2 linked regions of the Homo sapiens genome follow. The protein of the gene in region 1 interacts with the protein of each later gene in a pairwise test. Each region holds a gene or a part of one and is shown in the gene's direction. Other genes may lie near its edges.

What was found. Proteins that work in one complex are often made in the same cells at the same time.
Region 2: the proteins of SPTAN1 (region 1) and ZNF333 interact in a two-hybrid assay, tested with the Homo sapiens proteins (one study listed by BioGRID).

Annotation. Positions count from the first base shown.
Region 1 is NC_000009.12:128,576,438-128,580,186, forward strand, and holds part of SPTAN1 (spectrin alpha chain, non-erythrocytic 1), read left to right. Parts: intron 1-385; coding exon 386-519; intron 520-691; coding exon 692-836; intron 837-914; coding exon 915-1,069; intron 1,070-1,672; coding exon 1,673-1,808; intron 1,809-3,199; coding exon 3,200-3,301; intron 3,302-3,749. UniProt on the Homo sapiens protein: Fodrin, which seems to be involved in secretion, interacts with calmodulin in a calcium-dependent manner and is thus candidate for the calcium-dependent movement of the cytoskeleton at the membrane.
Region 2 is NC_000019.10:14,692,934-14,696,682, forward strand, and holds part of ZNF333 (zinc finger protein 333), read left to right. Parts: intron 1-517; 5' UTR 518-558; coding exon 559-561; intron 562-2,076; coding exon 2,077-2,200; intron 2,201-2,632; coding exon 2,633-2,728; intron 2,729-3,749. UniProt on the Homo sapiens protein: May be involved in transcriptional regulation.

The DNA of each region.
Region 1 (3,749 bases):
TATGTGCAAGAATGCTTAACAGCCTCATGAACATCTGAAATACCAAATTTTCAAGCAGTTAGGGTAGATGAGTACATTGATAAAGTTACCACACAGTTGTTGCCAAACTATTTATTAACATAAAGGTTTTTGGCACTTTTGCACATAACCACCTTATAGACTAACCACACTACTCCAAAAGATAGAGAATGGCTCTCCCCTTTTTACATAAGAAATAGAAACTCTTTGGAGTTGTAGTTCACTTTGTATCATGTTGACCATTATTTCTTGTGATTCTCTTCAGAGTGGTGATTTGCTGAGATGCTTCAAGGAACCAACCCCAGGGTAACTAGTTGGAGGAGCCAGAAGTTGTGTACAAATCCAGTCTCTTCTCTTCCTTGTTTAGGAGCAGCACCCTGAGGAGGAACTGATCAAGACTAAGCAGGATGAAGTCAATGCAGCCTGGCAGCGGCTGAAGGGCCTGGCTCTGCAGAGGCAGGGGAAGCTCTTTGGGGCAGCAGAAGTTCAGCGCTTTAACAGGTGTCAAGCCAGAGTGGGCTTTGGGGAATGGGTCTCAACCTGGAGGGGAGTTGTGAAGCACAGGGCATGTGCTGGTGAGCTGTCGAGGCTGACTAGGCCTTGGTCCCATGGGGTGTTCCTAGTTCTAGGGAGTCATCATTGCTGTGGATTAACTGGTGCCTTTGTTCTGTAGGGATGTGGATGAGACTATCAGTTGGATTAAGGAAAAGGAGCAGTTAATGGCCTCTGATGATTTTGGCCGAGACCTGGCAAGTGTTCAGGCTCTGCTTCGGAAGCACGAGGGTCTGGAGAGAGATCTTGCTGCTCTAGAAGACAAGGTGGGTTTTACAAGCAGCTGATTCTGTAAATAAGTTACCAAGGGTCAGGAGAATAGTTCTGACGGAGTTCATTTCTAGGTCAAAGCCCTGTGTGCTGAGGCTGACCGCCTGCAACAGTCCCACCCTCTGAGTGCAACACAGATTCAAGTGAAGCGAGAGGAACTGATTACAAACTGGGAGCAGATCCGCACCTTGGCGGCAGAGAGACATGCACGGCTCAATGATTCATACAGGTGCAAATAATGCTCCAGGTCTTAACCAGTATCATTTGGCTTCTTTTTTGGAAGCAGGAATAGCAGAGTTAAGGGTCTGTTCTGTGTTCTGTGAAAGTGTCAGGTATCACCTACAAATGCAAATCACTTCTTACCTATGTTCTCTCTGTTTGGAGACTGGCAACTGTATCATGTGTAGTATACGTATGGTATTTACAACTTCATAAATTCTTCTATTCTGCATCACTGCATTATGATTGATAGAATGGGAATGTCCCTTTAAGTATCTGAGTATCACATGAAATATCTTATTAAAACCAGGATTAGAAAGGAAAAGAATCCTTGCTAGCCAAGGGTTGAACCTGGGAATAACAAGGAAGTTGAAAATGTGGGACAGGATTGGGGCATTATAGTGATGGAGAGAACCTAAGTTTTAAAGGGTTGATTTCAGCCTTCTCTTGCTTTCCTTCACAGTCTAGATTGGGAAATTTTCATATTTCCCAGAATTAGAATTTATATAGTTTGTTAGACATTTGAGAACATAGAATTCAGAGCTTTAGGGAGGCCATTTTCCACCCTGGAACCTCCGCTGGAAACATAATGTCTTCCTTTGGTTTTCCCTAGGCTTCAACGCTTCCTTGCTGACTTCCGTGACCTCACCAGCTGGGTGACTGAGATGAAAGCCCTCATCAATGCAGATGAGCTTGCCAGTGATGTGGCTGGGGCTGAAGCCCTGCTAGATAGACACCAAGAGCACAAGGTAATGGTATCTCTAGAATCTTCCAGAAGTGAAGATTTTAGCTTATAATGCACCAGTTTATCAGTGTTGGGTGAGGCCTATAGTCGGCGTTGGTACCATGTTATTCACAGGTGTTTCTCATCATGAGGATTATGGTTGGTTTTGCCTTTGGAGACCTGGTCTACCTGCTTCTGATAGAGGCTTAACTGGGTTCAGTGTCAAGAGGTTCACTGTGGTCCATAAAAGCAAACAGACAAGCTCTGGCGAGATAGAAGTGCTACTACTTGGCACATTGATCCTTTGTGATGTAAAAAGTATTTGTTGGGCCAGGCACGGTGGCTTATGTCTGTAATCCCAGCACTTTGGAAGGCTGAGGCGGGTGGATCATGAGGTCAAGAGATCAAGACCATCCATGCCAACATGGTGAAACCCCATCTCTACTAAAAATGCAACAGTTAGCTGGTCATGGTGGCACGCGCCTGTAGTCCCAGCTATTCAGGAGTCTGAGGCAGGAGAATCGCTTGAACCCGGGAGGCAGAGGTTGCAGTGAGCCAAGATCACACCATTCCACTCCCGTCCGGACAACAAGAGTGTTTCACTCTGTCTCAAAGAAAAAAAAAAAAAAAAAAACCTTCTGAGAGGTTTTAATGTGCTAGATACAAAATCAATATACTGAAAGTCAAACATGTTTCTCTACACTAGCAACAGAAACATAATTTTTAAAAATACTACTTATTAGAGCAGAAAATATAAAGTACTTAGGAATAAGTCTAACAAAAGAGTGTAAGACACTTCTGGAGAAAACTATAAAACTTTGTTAAAAGGCATTAAATAAAAACTGAATAGATAGAATGATTTATCTAGTACACAGATGGAACGATCTTCTGTGAAGGTGTAAATTCCCACCAGGATATATACCGTTAATGCAGTTCCAGTCAAGTGCTCAGCAGGTATATGTGTGTGTTTCTTTTTGCAATGAGATAAGCTGATTCCAAAACTGATTTGGAAGAAAAAAATTCAAAAAAAGCTGAGACAATGTTGAAGATCATAATGGGGCCAGGGAGGGACTCGCCCTACCAGGTTCTATAAAATCATAGTAAACAAGTCCATTTGGCACAAAGAAGACAGAGCCCTGGAATGAAAGAGAGCTCAGACCCATGTGAATGTGTGGAACCTTGACAAATGACAGGTGACCTGAAAAGCCATTTGGAAAGGATTTCATCAGTGAGTGATACTCTCACATTTGATGACCTAGACTGATTATGTATTAGGAAATCTGGCCTAATCTTTCATTTTGTTTCTCATTTTAGATGTCATAGTCTGGCTTATAATGCTTATGTAAAATTCAGCACCTTGTTTTTATTTTGTAAGATGCTGGGCACAAATCATGGCTTTGTTTTTTTCTCCTGTAGGGTGAAATTGATGCCCATGAAGACAGCTTCAAATCTGCAGATGAATCTGGACAGGCACTGCTTGCTGCTGGTCACTATGCCTCAGATGAAGTGAGGGAGAAGGTAAGAGAAGAGAAATGGAGCTTTTGAGGAGCAAATTACACCTTTCACTAAGTCTCTGAAAGCTATTATTCATCCTTAAATATCCAGAGAACGCATTCACCATGATATGTGAGAAACTTTCCTTTCTCTGCAGAGGTTTAAAAAGAAGGTATATGTATAGTGTGCTGATTTCCTGAGAGACAGTCCTCCTTATCTGGGGCATGTGTGGCATGTTTCCTACTTACAGGGACTTTCTGTAGGGAGCTGAGTCTTGCATTAGGAGTTGGAGCAAAGAGGAAACAAATTTTTATAAAATGATACATAGGCCAGGTGTGGTGTGACCCCAGCACTTTCAGAGGCCAAGGCAGGAGGATTGCTTGAGGCCAGGAATGGGAGACCATCCTGAACAACATAGTGAGACCCCCATCTGGACAAAAAATTAATAAATTAGCCAGACATGGTGGCACAT
Region 2 (3,749 bases), on another chromosome or scaffold:
TGCCTCAGCCTCCCTCCCGAGCAGCTGGGATTACAGGCGTTTGCCACCATGCCCAGCTAATTTTTGTATTTTTAGTAGAGATGGGGTTTCACCATATTGGCCAGGCTGGTTTCAAATTCCTGACCTCAAGTGATCCACCCACCTTGGCCTCCAGCCTGAGCAACAGAGTGAGACTCAAAAAAAAAGGTTTACATCACAGTTGGAGAGAGAGAGGCCAAAATCGTTTAAGAAATAAATATCAAATCACACCTTCATATGGGCAGTGGAGGAAAAGTAGAAGATCTTAGAAGTATTTTGAGGGAAGCTAGAAGTTAAAATGTTCCTTTGATGACATGGGAAGAGTCAGTAGCAGTCACTAGAGGCTGTTGTTTGAAAGGTGCCTTGGGGGCCAACATGTTGCTTATGGAGATAAATGTCCTGTAAGGGTTTTGATTGTGACCACTCTGCTGGAGATCCCCCAAAATGCTCTGCTTCCGTCCTCACCCCTTCTTTTACCTCAGTGTCTCCTTTATTGCAGGGAGAACACCGACTGAGACCTCAAACCCTGGCTCCAGTGTCATGGTGAGGAAACTGGGGGCTCCTGTGGCTGAAGGGGTGGATATGTAGGATAACTATGTCCTCTGGGCCCTGTCTTCTCTCTCGCCACTTCCGTCCCCAACTGAGGAAGAAAGGGAAGGGTGAGTGAGGAGCATCCTCATCCCTGCCCTAGGGGACCTAGGGACTTCCTTCTGTGCCTGACCTCTAGAGGTGGCATGGAAGAAGAGTCCCACAGCAGACCCTGGGGCTCTGAGCGGAGCTCCTCCAGGGCCATCCTTGTCATCCCTGGTGAGACCTATTGAAAACACATGTGGCCATAGAAATATAAATTCAGCTTAAATTAATTAAGATTCAGTACATTTAGCCGGGCATGGTTGTGTGTGCCTGGAATCGCAGCTACTTGGGAGGTTGAGGTGGGAGGATAGCTTGAGCCCAGGAGATTGAGGCTGCATTGAGCTAGGATTGTGACCCTGCACTCCAGCCTAAGCTACAGAGTAAAACCTTGTCTCTAAAAAAAAAAAAAAAAAAAAAAAAATTAAAAAGTTTAAGCGCTCAGTTTCTCAGTCGCCCCAGTCACATTGCCCAAGTGCTCAACAGCCACATGTGCTGGTAGCCCCTTTCTGGAAAGCACAGGCATGGAACATTCCCATCATCAGAGAGTGATGTCTGTTGGACAGCACTGCTCTGAAGAATTCTGCAATTAAAAGGATTCTCAGATGAGGCCGGGCGTGGTGGCTCATGCCTGTAATCCCAGCACTTTGGGAGGCCGAGGCGGGCAGATCACTTGAGGCTGGGAGTTCAAGACCAGCCTGGCCAACATGGTGAAACTCTGTCTCTACTAAAAATACAAAAAGTTAGCTGGGTGTGTGGCACGTGCCTGTAATCCCAGCTACTTGGGAGGCTGAGGTAGGAAAATCGCTTGAACCCAGGAGGTGAAGGTTGCAGTGAGCCGAGATGGCGCCACTGCACTCCAGCCTGGACGACAGAGCAAGACTGTCTCAAAAAAAAAAAAGAAAAAAAGAAAAAGACTCTCAGATGCAATGGAAGTCCTACTTTCACAAGTATATAATTAAGGACGTAAGTCTTGGGGGATCCCAGGGACTTCACAGAAATTAAGCTTTCAATCCCAAATTTGTGATGCTGTGCCAATTTGTAATAAGGAGTTTAGGAAAAACTCTCTAAGCAGGGAGGGACAGGCTCTGCCATCACAAGTCAGTGGAGTTACACAGAGAGCCATAACTTTACACTTTAGGATTTATCCAAATGTTAAAAGAAAGTAAACATTTCAGCTTGGTGGCCCATGTGATCTCTGTCACAACTATTCAGTTCTGCCGTTGTGGCCTCAAAACAGCCATTGATGCATTGTAAATAAATGCACGTGGCTGTGTGCCAAGAAAACATTATTTACAAAAATAGGCTTTAGGCTGGATTTTCCATGCCTGCTGTGTCTGAACATTTTCTCTTCTCCAGTGATAACCAGTCGTTCTGCTCAGTGGTGGGGGTGGTATTTGCCGAGCCAGAATGTGTGTGCTGTTTTAGGAATCCGTCACCTTTGAGGATGTGGCCGTGGAGTTCATCCAGGAGTGGGCATTGCTGGACAGCGCACGGAGGAGCCTGTGCAAATACAGGATGCTTGACCAGTGCAGGACCCTGGCCTCCAGGGGTAAGGCTGGCGTCACCTGGCTCCTTCCTGTACGCAGGCACTAAATGCTTCTTAAGCGCCTGCCATGTGAAGAAGACAGACGTGGCTTAGGCTTTGTGGCACTTAGCGTCCACAGGATGACAAAGCTTCATCTGTTGCATTGACTTCTTTCCCTCTGTAGTAAGGCCCTGTTTGGGTCTCCTTGAATTTGGCCCCAGGCTTCTGAGGTGAGACAGCCTCAGCCCCTTGGGGCAGAGGGGAGGGTGTTTGTGGGTTGGGTCCTGAGTTCATTAGCTATTGGGCAAGATCCCTTTGCTACCCATCACACTTGCTCAGCCCAGAGAATCTGAAGCCCATATTGAAGCTGAAGGAGAGTTTGAGTTGAGAAACAAGAGTTTGTTTTCCCCTGCAAGCCCTCTCTCTCTCAGTGCCTGTGTCTTTCTTCATGTGCAGGAACTCCACCATGCAAACCCAGTTGTGTCTCCCAGCTGGGGCAAAGAGCAGAGCCAAAGGCAACAGAACGAGGGATTCTCCGTGCCACAGGTGTTGGTGAGTACCAGGCAGGCTGTGGATCCCCCGACCCCCCTGGTTGGGTGGTGTGCCTTGGGAAGTGTCAAGAGCATTTTCAAAGGCCCTTTGTTCTGAGGGGACATCGAAGGCCATTCGGAGTGAGGTTTCTCAAGTTCCTTTAGCTTCTCTTCTATTTTCACTTTCTAGCCCTCCTCTCCTACTTTCCTTTGGTTTCAGAAAAAGATTTGTTCTAATTTCTCTTAAAAAATTAGAGGGCCAGGTGTGGTGGCTCTTGCATGTAATCCCAGCACTTTGGGAGGCCGAGGCTGGTGGATCACCTGAGGTCAGGAGTTCGAGACCAGCCTGGCCAACATGGCAAAACCCCATCTCTACCAAAAATTAGCCGGATGTGATGGTGCACACCTGTAATCCCAGCTACTTGGGAGGCTGAGGCATGAGAATTGCTTGAACCTGGGAGGTAGAAGTTGCAGTGAGCCAAGATTGCATCACTGCACTCCAGCCTGGGGGATAGAGCGAGACTCTGTCTCCAAAAAACAAAACAAAGCAAAAATTAGAGCTATAAGTCACACACCATGAAATTCACCCCTTTAAAGTGTGCAGTTCAGTGGTTCACAACCTTGTGTAAACATCACCACTACCCAATTCCAGAACATTTTCATCACGCCAAGTAGAAACCCTGTCCCCATGGGCAGTTACTCCCCATTACCCCTCCCTCAGCCCCTGGCAGCCACTAATCTGCTTTCTGTCTCTATGGATTGTCCTATATAGACATTTGTATATGGAAATCGTATCATAAGTAGCCTTTGGTATCCGGCTTAGTATAATAGTTTTGTGTTGCAAGTAAGTTAGACTGGGTAGTTTATAAACAATAGAAGTTTATTTGACTCCTGGTTCTGGAGGCTGGGAAGTCTAAGGCTGAGGGGCTGCATCTGGTAAGGGCCTTCTTGCAGCATCATAACATGGTGGACGAGATCATGTTGCAAGAGAACAAGAGAGGCCCAGACTGGTTTTTACAGCAAGGCCACTCTTGAGATAACTA